4 linked regions of the Homo sapiens genome follow. The protein of the gene in region 1 interacts with the protein of each later gene in a pairwise test. Each region holds a gene or a part of one and is shown on either strand. Other genes may lie near its edges. The genes, in order: DNM2, CSF2, PIP and PRKAA2.

Region 1 (7,034 bases):
ACCTCTGAGCTGCCTCCCTAGCAGTCTGGACAGCCGTGGCTGGCACTTGGTGCTTCCTGAACAGGGCCAACCTTAGAAAGCAAGTGATAGGGCAGGTGCGGTGGTGCACACCTGTAATCCCAGCACTCTGGGAGGCTCGCTTGAACCCAGGAGTTTAAGACCAGCCTGGGCAACATAGCGAGACCCCATCTCTATTAAAATAATGATAATGATAATAATAAAGAAAGGGAGTAAGGCTTCTGCAGCACCTGGCCCAGGACCTATCCAGCCCCAAGATGTCCTAAAGCGGCCAAGGTTGAAATCCCAGCCCTGCTCCTCTCTGCCTCAGTCTTCCCCTCTGTAAAATGGCATCACAGAGGTAACTCACTCCTAGGCTCGTTTCAAAGATGGAGCCCAGATAAAAGTTCCATTCACTTCGTGCAAGGCGAGGGGCAGTTGTGTTGTGCGTGCCGTCAGCCACATGTCAGCAGTGAACTCAACAGGAGTCCCTGCCCTGGAGAAACTTGAGTCAGTCCAGTGGCAGTCAGCCACCTAGGTCAATAAGCACAGGCAGTCAGGCACCTAGGTCAACAAGCGCAGGATACGTGACGTGTTGTGTGAGGGAAAAGGAGGATGGAGGTGGGGAGGGTGCGGGTAGAGTTAGGGCAGGAGGGAGCCATGCAAGTGTCAGGATCAGGCAGTAGCCCGGTCGTCCGAAGGCCCTGGGGTAGGAACCCAGGTGGGATACTCAGGGAGCATCATGGAGGGCAGCGTGGCTGGGACAGAGTGACGGACGGGGAAGGGCCGGCAGATGGGCTCATATACAGCAGCGACCAGCATTGAGAAGCCCCCGGGGCTGGTGGTGGCGCATGCTACACGCTCTGGCCTGGGGCATCCTGAGTTGTCACGTGGACCGCTCAGGGTGACTCTTTTCCCTCCACCCTCAGGAGAAAGAGAAGAAGTACATGCTGCCTCTGGACAACCTCAAGATCCGTGATGTGGAGAAGGGCTTCATGTCCAACAAGCACGTCTTCGCCATCTTCAACACGGAGCAGAGGTGAGGGGCCCAGGGGCCTGGGGATGGCTCGGGGTGAAGACCAATGGCCTCATTCACACTCCACAACCTTCACTGAGCACTGAGCACCTGGCTGTCAGCAGTCCCTGCCCTTGGGACCCAGCTTTTAGAAAGGGGAGTCACGTGAGAAATAGCAAATGCCAGGGATGCTTCCCGTGCTGGGTCAGAGATGACCTCTCTGGGCAGAGATGAGGATGAAGGCAGGCTCCGAGTCAGTGGGAGCCATGGAGAGTTCTGAGCACAGGGTGACCAGGACCTGGCTCAGGTGCTTGCAGGAGCCCTCTGGTGGCTGAGAGGGAAACAGTATGAGAGGGTGAGAGATGGGGGACGAGGGCAAAGGCCGCTGCCTTGTCCAAGTGGGCGATGATGGGGCCAGAACCCATAGGGAAGGAGGGTGCAGATTCTGGGTAGAAGAGTCAGGCGGAGCCCTGGTGGGCATGGATATGAGAGAGAAAGGCACCAATTGTGACCCTGAGTACGTGGGCCTGAGCTCCTGCACTGCCCAGCTGCTGCCATTGGCCGAGGTGGGGAAGGCAGCGGCAGGTAGGCCTGGAGACAGCCAAGAGCTCCATTTAGGCCATGCCAAGGGAGAGGGTGCATCAGGGAGGCACCTGGGTAGATCGAGGAGTGTGATGTCCAGGAACGAGCTCCAGTCTGGGATGTGAACTGGGCAGTCACCATTGCGTGGATGGTATTTCAAGGAACGAAACCAGATGAGCTCCCAGGAGAGTGAAGCTGGAGAATGGGAGGCCCCAGGAAGCTCACAGTACATCTGTCCCATGAGGCGTAGCTGGAGACTTTAGCAGAGACACTGCTCTCAGGAAGAAACCCAGCTGGCAGGAGGGCTCTTCCCATGCTCACACAATCACGCTCATCCAGGAAGCAGGGCCCACCTGAGTCAGGGATTAGCTGTCAGTAAAGGCCCGGTGGTACCCTGAGACCTGTAGGCAGGCACTGACGTCCTCCCTGCTGGCCCCAGAACCTCCTTGCCTACTGCTTGGCTACACCCACCAACTCCAGCTGAGTCTCCTGGTTCCCTCCTGCTTTGCTCTGGCTGGCCTAAAGCTCGAGACCCATTTGTCCACCAGCTGGCCGTGAAAACCTTCATAGCTCTTCTAGGCTTGCCCCTGGCCATATGACACCTGGCAGCTGTCCCAGGTCCCTGAGCCGTGTGCCTCCTGTACAGGGAGGGTGACAATATTATCTGATATATCTTTTAAGAGCAGGTTCAGGAAACCCAGAGTAGTAGCTGCAAAAACAAGATAAGATGGTTGATAGTTTTTTGTGTAAATTAAGTCCAGACTTTAGTATCCCGGGCAAAGTGGAGCAGCTCCACAGGCATCAGGGTCCAGGCCCTGCATGTTCCTCAGGATTCCACCTGATATGCAGAAGCCGAGCTCTGCGGTGGGACAGGCCTGCCATGAAATCCTGACTTTTTTTTTAAACGGAGTTCCGCTGTTGTTGCCCAGGCTAGAGTGCAATGGTGCGATCTCAGCTCACCGCAACCTCTGCCTCCTGGGTTCAAGCGATTCTCCTGCCTCAGCCTCCCAAGTAGCTGGAATTACAGGCATGCACCACCACGCCTGGCTAATTTTTTATTTTTAGTAGAGACGGGGTTTCTCCATATTGGTCAGGCTGGGCTCGAACTCCCAACCTCAGGTGATCCACCCACCTCGGCCTCCCAAAGTGCTGGGATTACAGGTGTGAGCTACTGCACCTGGCCCAAAACCCCGACTTCTACTTCTTTGTCCAAAATGGCTGCCCAGACTCCAGCCATTGTGATGATGTCCCAGGCAGCAGCAGGAAGGAGAGGAGGAGCTACAAGGGCATGCCTCTCCCCACACAACCTCATCCAGAGGTCGTTCGGGGCAGCCACTTGCTGACCACAAACCCAACTCTCACTTAAAGGCTTTGTGGGCAGCTTGGCTGTCTTAACCACACCTGGATGTGGGACAGGAAAATGTGCGTGGCATGTGGCACGGGGCCTGGCCTGTAGACCACCATCTGCAAGCACTGTTTAGCATCCATTCCATTTATCTCCCAGCTTTGAGACCCTGGTTCTTTTTTCTTTTTCTTTTTCTTTTTTTTTTTTTTTTGAGATGGAGTCTTCCTCTGTCACCCACCCAGGCTGGAGTGCAGTGGCATGATCTCAGCTCATTGTAGCCTCCACCTCCCATGCTCAAGTGATCCTCCCGCCTCGGCCTCCCGAGTAGCTGGGACTACAGGCGCACACCACCATGCCCAGCTAATTTTTGTATTTTCTGTAGAGATGGGGGTGTTGCTGTGTTGCTCAGGCTGGTCTCCAACTCCTGAGCTCAAGCAATCCCCCTGTCTCAGCCTCCCAAAGTGCAGGAATTACAGGTATGAGCCACCATGCCTAAACTTTACAAAAATTTTTTTGTTTTGTTTTGATACATAGTCTCACTCTGTCGCCCAGGCTGGAGACAGTGGCACAATCTTGGCTCACTGCAACTTCCACCTCCCAGGTTTAAGCGATTCTCCTGCCTCAGCCTCCCGAGTAGCTGGGATTACAGGCATGCAGTACCACTCCCAGCTAATTTTTTGTATTTTAGTATTGACGGGGTTTCACCATGTTGGCCAGGCTGGTCTCAAACTCCTGACCTCAGTTGATCCTCCTGCCTCAGCTTCCCAAAGTGTTGGGATTACAGGCGTGAGCCACTGTGCCCAGCCAAAACTTTTTTTATAAAAAACACACAGGCCGGGCACGGGGGCTCACGCCTGTAATCCCAGCACTTTGGGAGGCCGAGGCAGGTAGGTCACGAGGTCAGAAGATCGAGATCATCCTGGCGAACACGGTGAAACCCCGTCTCTACTAAAAATGCAAAAAATTAGCTGGGGTGGTGGCAGGTGCCTGTAGTCCCAGCTACTCGGGAGGCTGAGGCAGGAGAATGGTGTGAACCCGGGAGGCGGAGCTTGCAGTGAGCCAAGATCGCGCCACTGCACTCCAGCCTGGGCGACAGAGCAAGACTCTGTCTCAAAAACAAAACAAAACACATTCGGGCACAGTGGCTCACACCTGTAATCTCAGAACTTTGGGAAGCCGAGGTGGGCGGATCAGCTGAGGTCAGGAGTTCGAGACCAGCCTGACCAACATGGAGAAACCCCATCTCTACTAAAAATACTAAAATTAGCCAGGTGTGGTGGCGCATGCCTGTAATCCCAGCTACTCGGGAGGCTGAGGCAGGAGAATCGCTTGAACCCGAAAGGTGGAGGTTGCGGTGAGCCGAGATTGCGCCATTGCACTCCAGCCTGGACAACAAAAGCGAAACTCCGTCTCAAAAAAAAAAAATAAATAATAATAATAATAATAAAGTTCTGGTGGACAGTGCTGCTCTGGGCTTTCCTGAAAATGCCCCAGTGGGAGCTTCCCAGCCACAGTTGGTGTCGAGGGTCACATGCCCACCTCTGGGGGCCCAGGAAAAGAGAAGAGTCAGCTGATCCAACAGAAACAAAGAAACTCAGACACTTGCCGAGCTTGTGCACAGCGCTCTTCTGTGTAGGCGTCACTCACGGTGACCCCTCAGCATGACCAGGTGAAGCCTGGGTTGGGTTTGGGTTCCTGATCAGTCAGAAAGACCCCTAGAGCCCATTCCTCTCGGCAGTCTGCCAGACCCATGGCAGGGTCAAGCTTGTGCCCCTCCTTCCCCACCCCCCCGCAGAAACGTCTACAAGGACCTGCGGCAGATCGAGCTGGCCTGTGACTCCCAGGAAGACGTGGACAGCTGGAAGGCCTCGTTCCTCCGAGCTGGCGTCTACCCCGAGAAGGACCAGGTGAGGAGCCGTCCTGCGCAGCCAGGCCCAGAGCCCCCACCTGGGAGAGGAAGCAGGGCTGGCTTTCCCCAGGACAGGTCATTTTCAGGCCATGTTAGCCAGGAGTCTCTGAAATCATGTAGCAGATGCCCACTTGAGCAAGCAAAGGAGAAATTGGGGGTACTTTGTCATCAGGGCCCAGAAAGTTCCCTCACGGAAGCCAGTGACCGGGGCACACAGGGGATGGGGTCCCACTTGCTTTGTTCTCTTCTCTTTTCCCCTTCCATCCTGAGGTAGAGTGAACATGGCCACCCTTGGCCCCAATATTAAAATGCCTTGCCGGGCACGGTGGGTGGTTCGCCCCTGTAATCCCAGCACTTTGGGAGGCTGAGGTGGGCAGATCATTTGAGCTCAGGGGTTCGAAACCAGCCTGGCCAACATGGTGAAACCCCGTCTCTACTAAAACTACAAAAATTAGCCAGGCATGGTGGTACGTGCCTGTAATCCCAGTTACTCAGGAGGCTTAGGCAGGAGATCGCTTAAACCCGGGAGGTAGAGGTTGCAGTGAGCTGAGATCACGCCATTGCACTCCAGCCTGGGCGACAGAGCAAGACTCCATCTCAAAAATAAAATAAAATGTCCCAAGGTTGGGTGTGGTGGCTTACACCTGCAATCCCAACACTTTGGGAGGCAATGTGGGCAGATCCTTTGGGCCCAGGAGTTCGAAAACAGCCTGGGCAATGTTGCAAAACCCTTCTCTCCAAAAAATACAAACATACCCAGGCATGGTGGCGCACCCCTGTAATCCCATCTACTCCAGGGCGCTGAGGTGGGAGGATCACTTGAGCTCTCCCTGGGAGGTTGAGGCTGCGGTGAACTGTGTTTGTGCCACTGCACTGCAGCCTGGGTGACATAGCAAGACTGTGTCAAAAAAAAACAAAACAAAAAAACAACGTTCCAATGCCCAGGTGAGGGGATCCACCCCAGCATCAGCCAGGGTCACCCCATTGTTTGGGCAGCTCTGGCCCAGGGCAAGCAGGCCTATCTGGTGCCAGTGGGGCTGTCAGGGGCCAGCCTGAGGTCAGTTATTGGTGGGACAATAGGGCAGATGGTTTCCAGAGAACCAGGACTTGGCCCAGGCCACAGTCACCCCTCAGCACCTCCCCTCCCGCTTGCAGGCAGAAAACGAGGATGGGGCCCAGGAGAACACCTTCTCCATGGACCCCCAACTGGAGCGGCAGGTGGAGACCATTCGCAACCTGGTGGACTCATACGTGGCCATCATCAACAAGTCCATCCGCGACCTCATGCCAAAGACCATCATGCACCTCATGATCAACAATGTGAGTGGAGAACTAAAAATGAGAAGGAGGTAGCTGGGTGCGGTGGCTCACGCCTGTAATCCCAGCACTTTGGGAGGCCAAGGCGGGCGGATCACTTGAGGTCAGGAGTTCAAGACCAGCCTGGCCAAAACGGTGAAACCCCATCTCTACTAAAAATACAAAAATTAGGCTGGGCGCGGTGGCTCACACCTGTAATCCCAGCACTTTGCGAGGCCAAGGCGGGCGGATCACGAGCTAAGGAGTTCGAGACTAGACTGACCAACATGGTGAAACCCCATCTCTACTAAATATACAAAAATTAGCCGGGCACGGTAGCTCACGCCTGTAATCCCAGCTACTCAGGAGGCTGAGGCAGGGGAATCGCTTGAACCCAAGAGGCAGAGGTTGTGGTAAGCCTAGAGTGCACCACTGCACTCCAGCCTGGGCGACAGAGTGAGACTCCGTCTCAAGAAAAGAGAGAGAGAGAGAGAGAAAAATACAAAAAGTAGCCGGGCATGGTGGCGGGTGCCTGTAATCCAGCTACCCGGGAAGCTGAGGCAGGACAATTACTTGAACCTGGGAGATGGAGATGGCAGTGAGCCAAGATCGTGCCACTGCACTCCAGCCTGGTTGACAGAGCGAGACTCCATCTCAAAAAAAAAAAAAAAAAAAAATGAGAAGGAGGCCAGGCACCCTAGGCCATACCTGTTTGTAGTCTTAGCACTTTGGGAGGCTGAGGCAGGAGGATCACTTGAGCCCAGGAGGTTGAGGCTGCAGTGAGCTATGATCATGCCACTGCACTCCAGCCTGGGCGACAGAGCAAGACCTTGTGTCCAACAACAGCAACAACAAATTTGAATGAATCACCACCCTTTGAACACCAGAAT
Region 2 (7,031 bases), on another chromosome or scaffold:
ACATTTGGGGACCGAGACAGAGGGGATGCACGTGGGGACAGAATGGGGCTGAAACCGCAGAAGCCAGAGATGTTGCTTCATATGTCTGGTGTGGCCTGGAGTGACAAGGGAAGGACAAACCACTCATGGTGCCATGCGGTACCAGGATCTCCTGTCGGTGATGCAGGACCCAGGAGCCCTGACTCAGGTGGAGGCCGGACTCCCTACCTCACCACGTGTGTCCAGAAGGTTGCCCTCTGCGGCTAGGGCTGGGCAAGGGGCAGCTGTCCCTGGAAACTCCAGCAGGCCTCGCTCCTCTGCCCAGTTTGGGCTTCAGAAATCTCCCCTAGCACTGGGCAGAGGAGAAATTGAAGGATTGTCTCTTCCCTGGGAGGATCTCCCACAGAGTTTCCTGGGGCAGGCAACAGTTTCCTCGGTGAGGCAGTGGCCATTAACCCATTGTACAGATGCAGGGGTTGAGGCTCAGGGAGGAGGGACTTTCCTAGGCTTCAGGGATTGGTGGTGGCTGGGTAAGGGCAAGAGCCCAAGCCTGGGGCATAGAGATGCCTGGATGGCAGGATCTGCTGGGGAAACTCTGCCTTCAGCCCAGACTTCCCTGGGACAGTCACAGGCCACTCCAGCCTACCTGCGAACACCTGGCAGGCATCTCTCTTTACAGCTGCCTTGAGGGGACAAGCACGCTGGGTCCACCCCCTGCTGGTCCAGCCAGGTGATCAGCATTTCCCAACTTCCTGACCCCAAGACAATGGAAAATGCTAGGATAGCAGGAACAGATATGGGTTCAAATTCTGGTTCTGCGGTCACTGATTGTGTGGACTGGGCTGACCACTGGTCTCCCAGATCTCAGGTCCCCAGAGATAACAAGAACCCTCATCAAGGGTTGGACAGGTCAAAGAAGGATCAGATCAGCCCCAAAGCCTGTGCGGGGGTGCCATGGTACCGAAGGGACTTTGAGGCCCATTTCCTTCCCCTTGTGATAATGTCTCTCGTGATAAGGATCCTGGAGTGACTCAAGCCCCTGTTTCCTACAGAGCCTGTGGGGTGGACACGCATAGGAAACTCCTTCCAGAGGGTTTTCTCCTGTCTCTGTAGGAAGGGGGGCCCCAGAGGGGTCATACCACCCATCGTGGTCCCCGCCTCTGCCCTGCCACAGCCCCATCGGAGCCCCTGAGTCAGCATGGCTGGCTATCGGTTGACACTGTTTAAAATACAGTGCAATCTAGGAATGCCTGCCTGTGTCATGGCCTCAGCCCTGATGTCATCTTTCCATGAGAAAGATGTGTGGCTGCCCACAAACCTCATCACCAAACCCATGGATTTCTGTCCTGTTTGTGCTGACTTGGGCACCTGCAGGCCACCACTGCCGAAATGGATTTCTTATTATGACTCTTGCTTTCCTCCTTTCCTTCCCTCCTAGGCCCTTGGCCACTGGCCTGTTACTTGCCCATCTGTTATGTCCCAGCCCTTAAACACAGCTTTGCTGGCCCTCAGCTCTTCTTCCTGAATAACTTCCGTGGCCTCAGCTACCACACAGACATGTACCGCTGCCAGATCTGTCTCCTGTACATGCAGACTCTGAAACTCCAAAACTTCCCGTGGGCCTCACGCTCTGAAGATCTGCTCCTTTGTCCCCTGGGTCCTCACCTTAGCCATGTGGACAGTGATTCTAACTCCTCTTACTCACATTCAAAGCACACTTTGGTGGGGGGGGAGGGGGGTGAGTAGACTAATCTTGCTCCTCCATGGATGGGGTTAAAAAGTCCTTGGAGGCAGGACCCTGACCGTTTTTGTCATCCTTATGTCCCTTTTCCCTGCTGGGAACCTAGTAGATGCTCAAAAAATAATGAATGACTGAGTGACTTCACTATAGCACCAAGTCCTGTTGAGATTCTACCTCCTCAATCTCTCTGGAGTCTGCCTGCTGTTCCTTATACCCATTCCTAAAACCCCAGGGCTCCCTGTGCCCAGAACATTCTCCCCTGTCCTCTCCTGCCCCTCTCCTTCCAACCCAACGTACCCACCTGACTTCTAGCCTTTCAGCCTGGGCTTGCAGGCAGGATCTCTAGTGAAGCTCTCTGGTCCCCTTGGATCCCCAAGCTAGAGAAGGTGGCCCTCTGGGATCCCTCAGCTCTGGACTTCCCCCTGCCGAGTCAAGGTCACACCATGGGAGGGTCCATTGCAGTCTGTTTCCTACCAGACTGGGAGCCTCAAGGGCCAAATGTGAGGGCCAGTGGGAGGGTCCCGTTTACCTCCCCAGAACAGGTCCTGGTGTGGATTGGAAAGACTTGTTGACTGACTGTCTGAGCTATGACAACTCATTTCTAGGAGGAAAGTGACCTTCTCTCCCAGATGGGTCATACAGGCTCTCTGCCTCCCTGGCCATCAGCTGAACCACTATCTATGGCTCCCTTCCCTGCCCTCCAGCCTCCAGGGTGCTATCCAACACATGTGATATCTACATGTAGTATCCATGTCCTCATCTCTCCCCCGAGAGCTCCCTGGAAAGAGCTGAGCCAAGGCCTTGCAAAAAAGGTGGAGAAAGGGCCAGGGCCTGGACATTTCATGTTCCCACCCCAGCCTGGCCACTAGGAGTGTTCTACGCAGGCTCAGATGGATGGGGCTGGCCTCACAGTGGGGTCTGGAGGACTAAGGTTTGGTTTCTCTATGCAAGGTCAGAAAAACTCCCACAGTACAGGGAAACTGGCCAGGGCTGCAGACTCAGACCACAGTGCTAAAGCCATGAACTCCACCTGCTCTCTGAAGGCTCGCCAACCTGAGTCCAGCAGAATGTTCTCGCTTGTGTCCAACCCCACTGGTTTAGGCTGAATCAGCCTCTAGGGCCCAGAGGCACTGCACCTGGAGTAGGGAGCTTCTCCAGTATCAGAGTCACCTTCAGAGGCCTGGAGCCTTTCATAAAGCAGGTAAGAGGACTCAATAGATGCATCTGCATGGAAAACATCCTCCCCTCTACCAGGCACCTGTATGTACAACCAATCACAGCAGCACACATACACCCAGAAATGGGCACGTGTGGGCCCACACCCCTTTAGCTATGAAACCCAGGCATGGGGCAGCTTGAGCCAGATACCTTGTGCAAACACAAACTCGTGCTGTCTTCTCTGAACTCCATTGTGAAAATCAAACACTTGTCAGCCCCTCAAGAGCCTTTAGATTTCCTACTTCCACACTTCCACAGAAAGGCCTCTGGAGTTGGGGGATGCTGGGGTTATGTAGGAAATTAAGCCTGGAGGGCCTTGCTGGGGAAGCCATTGTCCCTGTACCTGAGATGGATGCAGCCACAGCCCTGGAGCCAGCCTGAAGCTCCTGGTGTCTTCTGGGGGCTACATATAGGAGTGTAGTCCGAACCTCAGAGGGGCAAACCTGCTCTGCAGAGGGAATCAAGGTTCACATAACCAGAGAGGGGAGTCACTCAGGAAGGTGGCTCCAGAGCCAAGAGTCAGACTCTGGGTCCCGACTTGACCCAGCCACACCCCCTCTGAAGCTTGCTGAGAGTGGCTGCAGTCTCGCTGCTGGATGTGCACATGGTGGTCATTCCCTCTGCTCACAGGGGCAGGGGTCCCCCCTTACTGGACTGAGGTTGCCCCCTGCTCCAGGTCCTGGGTGGGAGCCCATGTGAACTGTCAGTGGGGCAGGTCTGTGAGAGCTCCCCTCACACTCAAGTCTCTCACAGTGGCCAGAGAAGAGGAAGGCTGGAGTCAGAATGAGGCACCAGGGCGGGCATAGCCTGCCCAAAGGCCCCTGGGATTACAGGCAGGATGGGGAGCCCTATCTAAGTGTCTCCCACGCCCCACCCCAGCCATTCCAGGCCAGGAAGTCCAAACTGTGCCCCTCAGAGGGAGGGGGCAGCCTCAGGCCCATTCAGACTGCCCAGGGAGGGCTGGAGAGCCCTCAGGAAGGCGGGTGGGTGGGCTGTCGGTTCTTGGAAAGGTTCATTAATGAAAACCCCCAAGCCTGACCACCTAGGGAAAAGGCTCACCGTTCCCATGTGTGGCTGATAAGGGCCAGGAGATTCCACAGTTCAGGTAGTTCCCCCGCCTCCCTGGCATTTTGTGGTCACCATTAATCATTTCCTCTGTGTATTTAAGAGCTCTTTTGCCAGTGAGCCCAGTACACAGAGAGAAAGGCTAAAGTTCTCTGGAGGATGTGGCTGCAGAGCCTGCTGCTCTTGGGCACTGTGGCCTGCAGCATCTCTGCACCCGCCCGCTCGCCCAGCCCCAGCACGCAGCCCTGGGAGCATGTGAATGCCATCCAGGAGGCCCGGCGTCTCCTGAACCTGAGTAGAGACACTGCTGCTGAGATGGTAAGTGAGAGAATGTGGGCCTGTGCCTAGGCCACCCAGCTGGCCCCTGACTGGCCACGCCTGTCAGCTTGATAACATGACATTTTCCTTTTCTACAGAATGAAACAGTAGAAGTCATCTCAGAAATGTTTGACCTCCAGGTAAGATGCTTCTCTCTGACATAGCTTTCCAGAAGCCCCTGCCCTGGGGTGGAGGTGGGGACTCCATTTTAGATGGCACCACACAGGGTTGTCCACTTTCTCTCCAGTCAGCTGGCTGCAGGAGGAGGGGGTAGCAACTGGGTGCTCAAGAGGCTGCTGGCCGTGCCCCTATGGCAGTCACATGAGCTCCTTTATCAGCTGAGCGGCCATGGGCAGACCTAGCATTCAATGGCCAGGAGTCACCAGGGGACAGGTGGTAAAGTGGGGGTCACTTCATGAGACAGGAGCTGTGGGTTTGGGGCGCTCACTGTGCCCCGAGACCAAGTCCTGTTGAGACAGTGCTGACTACAGAGAGGCACAGAGGGGTTTCAGGAACAACCCTTGCCCACCCAGCAGGTCCAGGTGAGGCCCCACCCCCCTCTCCCTGAATGATGGGGTGAGAGTCACCTCCTTCCCTAAGGCTGGGCTCCTCTCCAGGTGCCGCTGAGGGTGGCCTGGGCGGGGCAGTGAGAAGGGCAGGTTCGTGCCTGCCATGGACAGGGCAGGGTCTATGACTGGACCCAGCCTGTGCCCCTCCCAAGCCCTACTCCTGGGGGCTGGGGGCAGCAGCAAAAAGGAGTGGTGGAGAGTTCTTGTACCACTGTGGGCACTTGGCCACTGCTCACCGACGAACGACATTTTCCACAGGAGCCGACCTGCCTACAGACCCGCCTGGAGCTGTACAAGCAGGGCCTGCGGGGCAGCCTCACCAAGCTCAAGGGCCCCTTGACCATGATGGCCAGCCACTACAAGCAGCACTGCCCTCCAACCCCGGTGAGTGCCTACGGCAGGGCCTCCAGCAGGAATGTCTTAATCTAGGGGGTGGGGTCGACATGGGGAGAGATCTATGGCTGTGGCTGTTCAGGACCCCAGGGGGTTTCTGTGCCAACAGTTATGTAATGATTAGCCCTCCAGAGAGGAGGCAGACAGCCCATTTCATCCCAAGGAGTCAGAGCCACAGAGCGCTGAAGCCCACAGTGCTCCCCAGCAGGAGCTGCTCCTATCCTGGTCATTATTGTCATTATGGTTAATGAGGTCAGAGGTGAGGGCAAACCCAAGGAAACTTGGGGCCTGCCCAAGGCCCAGAGGAAGTGCCCAGGCCCAAGTGCCACCTTCTGGCAGGACTTTCCTCTGGCCCCACATGGGGTGCTTGAATTGCAGAGGATCAAGGAAGGGAGGCTACTTGGAATGGACAAGGACCTCAGGCACTCCTTCCTGCGGGAAGGGAGCAAAGTTTGTGGCCTTGACTCCACTCCTTCTGGGTGCCCAGAGACGACCTCAGCCCAGCTGCCCTGCTCTGCCCTGGGACCAAAAAGGCAGGCGTTTGACTGCCCAGAAGGCCAACCTCAGGCTGGCACTTAAGTCAGGCCCTTGACTCTGGCTGCCACTGGCAGAGCTATGCACTCCTTGGGGAACACGTGGGTGGCAGCAGCGTCACCTGACCCAGGTCAGTGGGTGTGTCCTGGAGTGGGCCTCCTGGCCTCTGAGTTCTAAGAGGCAGTAGAGAAACATGCTGGTGCTTCCTTCCCCCACGTTACCCACTTGCCTGGACTCAAGTGTTTTTTATTTTTCTTTTTTTAAAGGAAACTTCCTGTGCAACCCAGATTATCACCTTTGAAAGTTTCAAAGAGAACCTGAAGGACTTTCTGCTTGTCATCCCCTTTGACTGCTGGGAGCCAGTCCAGGAGTGAGACCGGCCAGATGAGGCTGGCCAAGCCGGGGAGCTGCTCTCTCATGAAACAAGAGCTAGAAACTCAGGATGGTCATCTTGGAGGGACCAAGGGGTGGGCCACAGCCATGGTGGGAGTGGCCTGGACCTGCCCTGGGCCACACTGACCCTGATACAGGCATGGCAGAAGAATGGGAATATTTTATACTGACAGAAATCAGTAATATTTATATATTTATATTTTTAAAATATTTATTTATTTATTTATTTAAGTTCATATTCCATATTTATTCAAGATGTTTTACCGTAATAATTATTATTAAAAATATGCTTCTACTTGTCCAGTGTTCTAGTTTGTTTTTAACCATGAGCAAATGCCAGTGGTGCCTGCCTTCCCATGAGGCAGGGGAGGGAGGAAACGGGGAGGTGGAGAGGGGGCGGGGGCCTCCCAGGCGTTGGGCACTATCCAAGGGCCAACACTGTCAGAGCAGAGGGGAGGTGAGAGCCGGGCATAGGTGCGGAATTCTGCACACCTGGACGGGCTTCCCGGGATGCTCCAGGGCTCCCACCCCAGAGAATGGCTCTCAAGTTCACCTGGAAGTCCAAGTGACCAGCCCAGGGAACTCTTATCCCAGAGAAGGGCACCACCCTTCCTGGGGAGGCCTGGGGGTTGGCTGGTCACTGGCTGAACAGGCCCACTCTGGCATCAGGCAAAACACCTGCCCTGTAGAGGCCTTGGCCCCTGTGCCCCACGCCCTGCCCCTCACACTCTGAGATTTAACCATTCCGAAAGTAAACAGCAAAATAGACTAACTGTTCAGGGGAAAAGAAACCAAACCACAGGGGTCACAGTGCAGCGTAT
Region 3 (7,009 bases), on another chromosome or scaffold:
CTACCATAACCTGGTTTTGGCCATGCTCCAAGACCTCATTCTTTTGTAACCTCAAGATGGTACATGAGCTTCTGTACTCCCACTGAGGAGTTGGAGGTCATCATTCTCTCCCATGCACGTTAATAAACTTGTATGCCATTTCTCCTATTAATCTACTTTTTGTCAGTTTATTTCTCAGTGAAACTTCAGAAGGCAGAAAAAAAGTTTTCCCTTGGCCCCTACATCACCAGGGTGACCTTAGAAATGACACTAAAGGCCAGGCATTGTGGCTCACGCCTGTAATCCCAGCCCTTTGGGAGGCCAAGGGGGGGTGGATCACCTGAGGTCAGGAGTTTGAGACCAGCCTGGACAACATGGTGAAACCCCGTCTCTACTAAAAATAAAAATAATTAGCTGGGTGTGGTGGCAGGCACCTGTAATCCCAGTTACTCAGGAGGCTGAGACAGGAGAATCACTTGAACTTAAGAGGTGGAGGTTGCGGTGAGCCGAGATTGCGCCACTGCACTCCAGCCTGAGTGACAAGAGTGCAACTCCACCAAAAAAAAAAAAAAAAAAAAAGGAAGAAAGAAAGAAATGACACTAAAGATGACAGAGTTTCTAAGAAAAGAGTCACACTCCAGCTTCTCTCACCTCTGAGAGATTTTGCTTGGATATAACCTCCTCTAAGAAACAACTCATTACATCTTACATCTTCAGTATGCATTAGATGCCCTTCTACAAGTCTTGTGCCAATTATGCTTTTATTAAGTAAGAGGAAATATAGAGTAGTCACTCTAAGTGCCAACTCCGGATTCACTTCTATCTGGGTTCCAATGGTTTGGCTTAGTCATATGGCCAAGCCAAACTTCAATACCTTTGTTATTTGTTGGCTCTGTGACTTGAACAACTTATTAAAACCTCTGTGAGTTTCCTTTTCTCAACTTTAAACTGTTGCTACATCAATAAATAGACTAGACAAGTGTTTAAGGACATAAACTCTGGTATCAGACTACTTGATTTTGAACCCCTAACTCTGCCAGTTACTAACTTTGCAACTTGTTCTCGCCAGTAGGCAGTGCAGTGGTTAAAGGGTCATGTTCCAGGGCCAGACTGCCAGCGTGGAAATTCTGGCCCCACCCAAAGGTGTATTCGCCATTAAGTTAATGGCATGAAGCCTCAGGGCTTCCTACTTATGGGTGCCTCCTCCAAGATCCTGTACCTGTAGTTTACATTTGTAAGTTTGGATTCTATTTCAAAAAGAGGTTCTCAGATACTGTAAATCAAAACTCAGATTCCACAAAACCTGCTTGCAAAGTTGACTCTGCCATATACTGGCTATATGGTCTGGGTTAGATATTTATCTCCTGGGTCTCTGTTTCTCCTCTTGTAAAATGGAATAAAAATGGCAACCACCTTCACAGGGTTGTAATAAAGATTGAGCTAATATATGTTAAAATGTTTAGAGCAGTGTAATGCACACAGCATATGCTTCATGTGTGTTGGTGTCTATAACTCCCTCTCTGTCCACTCCTTATCTTCTTCTCATGAGCCCTGTCAGGACTAAGATTATCTTTCTCTTTGTAAACTTAGCCTGTGGCAAGCCTCACCTATATTCTAACTCTTTCCCTATGGGACTATACACATTCTCTTCTGTAAGCTTCCTGAGTTGTTTACAATCTGATTTTATCAACCTTTATCTGATTTCTTAAACCTAGACTTGTTCATTCTTTATGGCATAATAATTATGGTTTCTTTTTCTCCCTAATCTTCTTCCTCAAGGGACCTCAAGCTTTTCTCTTAAGACTTTCAACTGATCCAATGAGTCTGACCCATATTATGGAGGTAATCTGTTTTACTCAAATTTTACTGATTTAAATGTTAATCACATTTAAAACAAACAAACAAACAACAACTTCACAGCAACTTCTAAACTGTTGTTTTTCCAAAAAGTGGGCACCATGCCTAGCTAAGCTAACAAATAAAAGTAACCATCACAGCAGTCATGGCCTGAATAAGACTTGTCCTAGGCCAGGCACAGTGGCTCACACCTGTAATCCCAGCAATTTGGGAGGCCGAGGCAGGTGGATCACTTGAGGTCAGGAATGTAAGATCAGCTTGGCCAACATGGTGAAACCCCATCTCTACCAAAAATACAAAAATTAGCCGGGTATGGTGGCACCTGCCTATAATCCCCACTACTCGGGTGGCTGAGGCATGAGAATTTCCTGAACCCGGGAGGTGGAGGCTGCAGTGAGCTGAGATCATGCCACTGCACTCCAGCCTGGATGAGTGAGATTCTGTCTCAAAAAAAAAAGATTGTCCTGTACATTGTAGGTATTGCAGTTTCCTGCTAGCTCACAGAAGAACAGCCTCATTACCTTCAATAGATGCTCTTAACCCATCGTCATCTGCCTTCCTCTGGACACTGCCTTTTGGGAGTGCTGGAGTTGCATCCTCAAGGACAGGGCTATGCCTTCAAAGAGCCAAGCAAAGAACTTTTCCTGCATTTTCCCACACAGACACTTCCTAGATTCTTCTGCCTTATGCCTGCCTTGGTCAGTGTAGCTAGGATGTGCTTCAAATGGAAATTATGCAAGTGAGAAGGACCAGGTGTAAAGACAATTTAATTGTGGGAAAAGGCTTACAAAGGAAGGTCATTGTGACCCTCACAAGCAGTGTTCTTGAGTGGATAGGACATAAACAGGGAAGAAAGCATGTGATCATGAGAACAGCTGAAGTTCTGAGTGAGCAATGACATGAATGGTGTCCAATTCAAAGAAAAGAGAAGGTAGATCCAGGAGCTGAATAAACAGACAGAGCAATTTTGAGAGATACATCCAGAAAGCAGAAGCACACACTTACACTTTAGCTCTGAATCCTGGCTAAAGCAACATACAGAGGCGGTAACTCCTAGAACTCTGATTTTCACTCTGTTGCCAGAGAGGCTCTTCCTGGGCAGCTGTGTGCCATGCAAATGATAGAAACAAATCCCATAGTATTGTAAGTCATAGGTTAAGGAGCAGATTTAATTTCATAAGGAGAAATAACACAATGCCAGTGTCAGCAAGAGCAAGTCTCCCCATCATCCCAAGGAGAGGAATTCTACAACCTGGGTATCTACTGGACATAATGTGGGCTCCATTCTCACAGAAGGAATCCTTTCCACTGTGGTTCTTCCTGTGTGGCTTACGCATGAGACAAGTGTAAGAAAGTGGCCATGTCAATAAGAAAATAAGCCAGCTCTTTGGTGCCAAGAAGTCTGATTTGGGGGTGCCAGCTATTTATAGGAATTGTCTAGAATTAAAATATCACCCTGCCTTGGGGATTGTGGGGCAGCTGGGGATCTTGGACATCTGCAGTATATTGCAACCACACCTGAAATTAAGAAGGACTCAATGACAATAAACATCTTTACATCACCCAGTGTCTTGAACTCACTTCCCCATCATGTAGAGCAGCTCAGGTCTTCTCTAGCTCTTCCACCTCATGATGGGTAGTGACTGCTAGGGAAGTCCTGATCATCCTAGCCCTCCAAGAAATGTTTTGAATAGCATTGCATCTTGAACTCACTATAATTTGATCAAGCAAAGATGTTCTATGTCTCTGGTCTGAAACCTGCCACCACAGCTGTGTTCTCTGCTTTCAGAGACCAGGGGAGCAGTGACTGAAGCTAAGACTACACATAGCACTTCAGACAGGCAAATTAGGAGGGAAAAGAAAACTGAATCTGTAAACTCGGGAAAAACTGGTGTATCTTTTGAGGTCCCAGCCATTTTGAGAAACTCTGATGCTGAAAAAATAAGGAAGAACAATCTGACTCCTCTCTCAAACGCTGACATTCTAGCTGAGTGTTGATTTTTTCTTAGAAAAACAAACTTTGGGTCAACAAGGAAAGATCACGAGTGGGGAGGGTGAATGGGTGATTCACCTCATGGATCTCCCTGGCAGCTCTTGCACTTCCTTGATCAATCTGTATATAAGAAATGTGCTGGGCACCTGGGACACCACTTCTCTGGGACACATTGCCTTCTGTTTTCTCCAGCATGCGCTTGCTCCAGCTCCTGTTCAGGGCCAGCCCTGCCACCCTGCTCCTGGTTCTCTGCCTGCAGTTGGGGGCCAACAAAGCTCAGGACAACACGTGAGCCATGCCCTTCTCCTCCCCACAAAAAAAATTGCAGGGAGGGCTCCTCTCCCAGTCTGGAAATTACATATCTCTTTCTGAGAATTTCTTTCAACTTCCCAGAACTCTAGTCCCAGGAGCTCCCATGGATCTCCTGCCAGGTTCCACTTCTTGTCCTCTTAGGAAGCCCCACCAACTCCTCTCACATTTTTGCTGGGTGTTTCTGCATTGCCAGTGGAAATAAAGCTCCAAATGTACCTACAGGCTGTAATTAGTAGTTAGTCTTCATCTAACATGCTGATCCACATCTTGTTCATAATTTATACCTTTGTTCAGATTTCTGCTCAGTAAACTTTACCTTCTCACACCTTGCCTCCTAGAAGAGAAGCATAACAGGTCTGTGAATTCCAATGGCAGCTTAGGGCAGCTTTGGCAGGACTGGCTAAAGGACCAGAGGCCCTGGCCACTGCCCTGTGGTCTGAGATTGAGCTAGACTGGCAGCTTAGACATTCTTCCTAACCTGAAGTCTGAAGATGAATATGATGACCTCTTGCTCTCACGTATACTGGGACCTGAGAGCACAGGTTCAGAAGTCAACTTATTGAGAACACATGTGTGAAGGAAGCAGAAAAATTGGAGCAAGTAAAATAAAGTAGAAAATGGAGCCAAGGGTCTGGGAGAAAGCAGCGATACCCAATCTAGGGAGTTTTCTCTATAGCAGTAGGGTTTATAATGCTGGGTTTCTGGGTTGTGATCTTGGAGGTACTCTCTATGGCATGGTCAGATATCCTGTCCTGGAGGAAACTGTTCAGGGTTTTGACAAGCTAATGTAATGGAGGCAAGTGTCCCAAGAAACCCTGCATGGGGACAGGTTCAGATCCCACCCCATTCCCGCCAGATGACAGTCCACTTAGCCCTGAAGGGCAGCAAGGTATTCAAATAAGCTATGCTAATTAGGTTATCAACCATCCATCCTGATTTGCCCAGAACTTTCCTGGTTGTAGCACTGCAACTCTGCCCTCCCCCGCCACCTCCACAACCCATTCTGGAAAAGACCTCAGTCCTGGGTAAACTGAGATGGTTAGTCACTCGAACTAAGCTGGTCATCCTATCAATCTGAAACTCATATACAAATGGGAGAGATTTTGAAGTTGCTTAGGTATTTATACCCTTTTCCTGTGCACTGGGCACTACAGCAGTTGGCACCAAAAAATAGAATCTCTCTAAGATGCTTTGCCCCAAGAAAATGGGGCTGTGAGACACTGTGGGCTAAGAATCTCAATTCCCTTCTGTCCCACACAATAACAAAGGTCCGTAGCCGGGAGTTTCTAGGGACGAGAAAATAACTCTCCTGGCCCCGAACCCAGTCCTCATTGACTGAAGAAGAACATTTGACCATTTTATTTGTCTCCATTTCCTTTCCTTTTCAGATTGCAGTGTATGGTCTAAATGTAGAGTAGTATCTAAAGTTCCCAAACATGGCCATATGTCCAAATTTCCTAAGGAGCTAAATAAATACAAATTCCTAAACCCTACCTGGGGACCACAGAAGGAGGATCTTCAAAGATGCTCCTACAAATACCTCCAGTGCATTGAGATGTTTGCTGGGTTTTTAAAATTTTTTATTATTTTATTTTATTTTTCCATAAGTTACTGGGGTACAAGTGGTATTTGGTTACATGAGTAAGTTCTTTAGTGGTGATGAGATTTTGGTGCACCCATCACCCGAGCAGTATACACTGCACCATATTTGTAGTCTTTTAGCCCTCACCCCTCTCCCACTCTTCCCCGCAAGTCCCCAAAGTCCATTGTATCATTCTTATGCTTTTGAGTCCTCAAAGCTTAGCTCCCACATATCAGTGAGAACATACGATGTTTGGTTTTCCATTACTGAGTTACTTCACTTAGAATAATAGTCTCCAATCTCATACAGGTCACTGCAAATGCTGTTAATTCATTCCTTATTATGGCTGAGTAGTAGTATTCCATCATATATATATATATATATATATATATATATATATATATATATATATATATACCACAGTTTCTTTATCCACTCGTTGATTGATGGGCATTTGGGTTGGTTCCACAGTTTTATAATTGTGAATTGTGCTGCTATAAACATGTGTGTGCAAGTATCTTTTTTGAATAATGACTTCTTTTCCTCTGGGTAGATACCCAGTAGTGGGATTGCTGGATCAAATGGTGGTTCTATTTTTAGTTCTTTAAGGAATCTCCACACTGTTTTACATAGTGGTTGTAGCAGTTTACATTCCCGTCAGCAGTATAGAAGTGTCCCCTGATCACTGCATCCACGCCAACATCTACTGTTTTATGATTTTTTGATTACGGCCATTCTTGCAGGAGTAAGGTGGTATCGCATTGTGGTTTTGATTTGCATTTCCCTGATCAAGAGGTTTGCTGGTTTAATGTGATTCTGTTGCTAGAAAATTTTCTCCTAATAATGACTTGAGCCCTCCTACTCAGTAGACAACCACCAGAGCCTGTAGGATGTTATCAGGAAGTGGCATGTGGTATTGTACATTTTTTCTTTTTAAAAACTTGTTTTTGGTCAATGGAAGGGAAGAAGATGCTCGTTCATTGATGGGCATTTGGGTTGGTTCCATGATTTTGCAATTGTGAATTGTGCTACTATAAACATGCATGTGCAAGTATCTTTTCTAAATAATGACTTCTTTTCCTCTGGGTAGATACCCAGTAGTGGGATTGCTGGATCAAATGGTAGTTCTACTTTTAGTTCTTTAAGGAATCTTAAAGTGTCCTAGTTGTTTTATTAAACAAAATTAAATCTGTGTGAAGTTACCAATCCAATCAACACATGAAAATTCCAGGGGATTCCAATGCTGAACAATTGATCCAAGCCCCATAATTTCCCTCCCTTGCCCA
Region 4 (4,556 bases), on another chromosome or scaffold:
TCATAAGCAACTATTGTAGATTTTTGATCTGTTTGGATTTATCTGTAGCATTGAATAATGTGCAGTGTACTGAGTTAATGTAGGCACCTCACTTTGGATTTATAAAATGTAAAAACCTGGAACATGCCTGCCACAGACACCACTTTGTCTATTCACCGGGTACTAATTTACATCCTATTAATGGTTGTAAAAGCTGAGTGTCTAAATGCTAGACATGTTCACAATTTTGTCTGTTTTTGTTTATTTGTTTTTAAGACCCAAACCTTTTCAATCTTGCATTTATTTACTTGGTTCTCCTGTGTCACCCTGTGGCTTTTTAAATAGGGAATGTAATTTATTTTAATAGTAGTTCTCAAAGACTCTATTAAAAACTCTGGACGAGGGATATGTGCAATCTGTTGGTAAGTCACATCCTATGTTTGGCCTCATTTTTATAACTCCTAAAATGAGAAAGGTAGATTTTAACACTTCTAAGGTACCTTTGAGCTTTAAAGTTCTTTTCTGCTTTTCCATATGATTTGTGTTAGTGTTCACTTTTTATATATTTAGAGTTTTTATATGAGTGTGAATGTTTCTGTTTTGATTTGGTGAGGCATGTCAGAGGTATATACTTGAATATTTTTCTAAATACAGCTGCTGGAGGAATGCAAATGGCAAAAATCATCCAGAAAACCAAACACGGTGAAACATCACATCCATTTGGCATGAAGCAAAGCATTACAAATTTGGAGTGATGAAAGTGTTCCATATATTTTTTATAGTGATTTTTCGATCTAGAGACCCTTCATATTGTTTACTTACTATTACGATAACTTTGAGAGGTAACCAGAGAAAGCATTTTTGCCATTTCCAGATGAGGAAGCAGGACCAGAAAGCTCTTCATAAAGCTTTAACACCATACAAGTATCCAGCAGTGATCAATTGCTCTTTATAGGAAACCACCTTTCCTCTGGGGAAGAACAGTCTGAATTAATAAAACATCAGAGTGGTTGAGTAGTAAAAATAAACACAGATGTATTGCTTTCAAGTCTTAGAGTGACATAAAGTAGTCTTAAATAAATAGTTCTTAGTTTATTTTAAGCAGTTGATTGTACTAACGAGATGTAATTATCTGAAGTATTTATGATTAGCATATTGGTTTTTATAAGTATTTCTGAGTTATTGAGGGTGCTTAAAAATGCTGAAGAAACTTTAAAACATGATTCTTCTTATAATTTTATGTGATTCTTATAGCACAATCATTTTTGAAAAAGGAAAACTAGGCTGGGTGTAGTGGCTCATGCCTATAATCCCAGCACTTTGGGAGGCCAAAGTGGGTGGATCACCCGAGTTCAGGAGTTCGAGACCAGTCTGGCCAACATGGTGAAACCTCGTCTCTACTAAAAATACCAAAATTATCCGGTGTGGTGACAGGCTGCTTGTAATCCCAGCTACTCGGGAGGCTGAGGCACGGGAATCTCTTGAACCTGGGAGGCAGAGATTGCAATAAGCCAAGATCATGCCACTGCATGCCAGCCTGGGTGACAGCACAAGACTGTCTCAAAAAAAAACAAAAAAAGGAAAAAGAAAACTAGCCCCAGTCCCTGTCTAAATTGTTATAGTTTTTGACTATTATCTGAATTAGTCTTATCCAAATTTCATATGCAGATTGATTTTTCATTTTGTATGTATATTACATGATATAACTATTTTCATAGAATATATTTCTAATTTACAAACACTGAATTATTAGCTTGATAGAGTTTCTCCCAAACCTTATAAAACTTTGAAATGTACTTATGTTTGAGCTTTAAAAATTATAAAAACTTCATTTAAACAAGTTGCTGGCATCATTACTAGCCTTTCCACCTATAATTATGATGCATTTGATGCCACTGAACAGTAATAGCACAAAGAACAGGTCACACAGTCTAGACTGGATTGAGTTTTAATTAAACTTCTTCATCCATAGCCTGATAAGAATCAGGCTGGGTCTAGAAGAGTTATCAGACTGTAGGCCTGTATTAATTTTGCAAGCTAATGTTAATGTTTACTGCCAGCCTTGCATAGCAATGCCAGTTTGCAGTTGTGACTATGATGTGACTTTTGGTAAAAATGGTTTATATCTAAAGTAGTTTAGATTTTATGGAAGTGGCTCTTGATTGTTTGGACAAGCAGGGTAGGTAAATTTCAATTACGTTTGAAGTGTAATTAAATCCTAGAATAGAGCACTCTCCAGAAAAAAAAATGAAAAAAGAATTTGGAGAATATCCTGGCATGAAAACTTTTTTGAATAATACGTAGAATTTTGACAAGGTTCATACAGTGCATACAGTGTGACCTTTTCTGAGGTGGGCAGGGAGGGTTGCTACGTTGTGTTGATTTAAAATTTCAAGGAGGAACAAAAACATTCTAGCCAAGGAGAATTGCATTGTTATTTTTTTTTCTACTAATTTAAACGTGCATTTTTCACAGTTACACATTTAAGTTTTGCTACCAAAAATGGCCATTTTTCTAGACAGATAACATTTTCCTAAAGTGGAAGAGAGATCCACTGTTCTAAAAAAAAAAAAAAAAAAAAACACTAAATTGTGCCTTCTCCCTTAAATTATAAGAAGAGTAATAGTAAAAACTTGTTTAAACTATATTTTCTTTTTTTCTAATCCCTCTCAGTTCTCCTTAGATCTGCCTCCTACAAATGATCATGTTGTTTGCATCTGCCTGATTGAGTTCCCTTGGTCAAACCTCTCCCTATCACTATCAGAAGTTGTTCACTAAATGTATTTTCCTATTTCTTTCATGTTGATTGACTTTATAAGTCACCTTGGTAAACATAACATTTGGCTACCTTCTCATGCTTTATAAATGAATTTGATGAATGGCAGTTTTTATATTTTAACCCTTTAAAAAGTTTGTCAAGGAAACAACTCAGAGCTAAGAACAAAATCTAACTTGGAATCAGTTTCTTCCTTTGGCTGCTGAAGCAGCAGCAAGTCACGTAACCTCATTTAGTTTTTTGATTTACAAAATGTGGATAATAACCTACCTCACAGATGTGTGTGAGCAACTGTTTGAAAGCCCTTGTTTAAATACAGGGTTTATATCCCCACATTCAATGTAAATTCCTTTTTTTAAAAAAAATAAGTATCTTTGATACTGATAGGATGAGTATCTTGATTTTTAGGTAAGATCACAGTTTCACAAATTGTGGTGTTGTTAGGTGACATTTAATATTTCTTGAGACCTCAAGTATTCAAATATCAAACTTGTCCTGTGTTGTAACAAATATTCAGAATCTCTTAAAATGTTGGCTGAAGCTGCCTTAATGTACCAAAATACAGCTCTCAAGACTGTTCACAAATATCTGTGGTTGTACAATGTTTTGAACATTTAATGTAAAGTTGTTGTAGAACTGTGAACTCTAAGGATAGTATCTTTATTGTTTTAGGAAGAATGGTTGTGTTCTTTGTCATGTATGCTTAAATATACAGTGGATTTTGAATGCAACAAATAAAACTGAAAACAGCCATTTGGTTGTGTCATGACAATCATAATATAGGATATAATATTTACTTTTTTTCAAAAACATCCTGCATTCATTCATTCTTAGCATACCTTTGAAAAAGAAAAAAAAATCCATAGGTTGATACATTGACCCATTGAAGTACTTCATTACGTATTTATTGAAAATTTTTTTTAATTGTTGAAATTGGGACCACTTTTTATAATTGGTTTCAAGAAAAAAAAATGAACAGACTTCCAGTGCTTTTCTGTTCAAATAAACTCCGATTCAAATTTCAGTTTTGTTTGTTATATACTTTTTGTGAGTGTTAAATGATATGGGAAGGATTTGTCTTTCATTAACCATATGGAAAAGATGTCTTCCTGAATTACATAGCATTTCATAGTTACAGATTCTTCCTAATTAATGTTTGCACCATATGAAACTCATAGGTAACAAACACAAAGGAGAAAAGCAGCCTGTCTGATTGCTTATAAGCTTTTTTCACAAAATCAAATTAAAAGTCTCTGATTCATTTGAAAGCTATTTTTGTTTCTGCTCCATCATTATGCTGGTATTCTGCACACCAACTAATAGTTACAGGAAAGTTGTTAGTGGAAAAGATTGCCTATACTCATTGGTGATTTCACACCATCTTTTTTCATTTTTGTCATCTTAGTTGTACATTATAGTTTTTAACTTGAGTTATTGCATTGGTTTTCTACTGTTGCTGTAACAAATTACTACAAACTTAACGACTTAAAATACAAATTATTTTATTGTTCTATATGTTAGAAACCCAGCAGGCTTAGCTGGTTTTTCTGCCTCAAGTCACACAAGCTGAAAACCAAAGCATTGATAGGGCTGGGCTGTGGAGGAGAATCTGTTTCCAGTTGCATTGAGTTGTTGGCAGAATTTCATTCCATGGTGCTGTAGGATTGAGGTCCCTGTTGCCTTTTTGGCTGTTGGCTAGGAATCATTTAAAGCTTCTAGAGGCCATCATCCCTTGGCCCTTGGCTCCCTTCATCTTCAAAACCAGCAACAAGTGGCTTATGGGTTGGATCTCTTCTTCCTT

The links.
Region 2: the proteins of DNM2 (region 1) and CSF2 interact in binary tests that used the Homo sapiens proteins (3 or more experiments, as listed by UniProt).
Region 3: the proteins of DNM2 (region 1) and PIP interact in binary tests that used the Homo sapiens proteins (3 or more experiments, as listed by UniProt).
Region 4: the proteins of DNM2 (region 1) and PRKAA2 interact in binary tests that used the Homo sapiens proteins (3 or more experiments, as listed by UniProt).

The regions. Positions count from the first base shown.
Region 1 is NC_000019.10:10,819,054-10,826,087, forward strand, and holds part of DNM2 (dynamin-2), read left to right. Parts: intron 1-926; coding exon 927-1,036; intron 1,037-4,734; coding exon 4,735-4,846; intron 4,847-6,003; coding exon 6,004-6,168; intron 6,169-7,034. UniProt on the Homo sapiens protein: Catalyzes the hydrolysis of GTP and utilizes this energy to mediate vesicle scission at plasma membrane during endocytosis and filament remodeling at many actin structures during organization of the actin cytoskeleton.
Region 2 is NC_000005.10:132,069,662-132,076,692, forward strand, and holds CSF2 (granulocyte-macrophage colony-stimulating factor precursor), read left to right. Parts: upstream 1-4,127; 5' UTR 4,128-4,162; coding exon 4,163-4,321; intron 4,322-4,419; coding exon 4,420-4,461; intron 4,462-5,148; coding exon 5,149-5,274; intron 5,275-6,083; coding exon 6,084-6,191; 3' UTR 6,192-6,509; downstream 6,510-7,031. UniProt on the Homo sapiens protein: Cytokine that stimulates the growth and differentiation of hematopoietic precursor cells from various lineages, including granulocytes, macrophages, eosinophils and erythrocytes.
Region 3 is NC_000007.14:143,128,095-143,135,103, forward strand, and holds the start of PIP (prolactin-inducible protein precursor), read left to right. Parts: upstream 1-3,982; 5' UTR 3,983-4,022; coding exon 4,023-4,117; intron 4,118-7,009.
Region 4 is NC_000001.11:56,711,309-56,715,864, forward strand, and holds the end of PRKAA2 (5'-AMP-activated protein kinase catalytic subunit alpha-2), read left to right. Parts: 3' UTR 1-4,027; downstream 4,028-4,556. UniProt on the Homo sapiens protein: Catalytic subunit of AMP-activated protein kinase (AMPK), an energy sensor protein kinase that plays a key role in regulating cellular energy metabolism.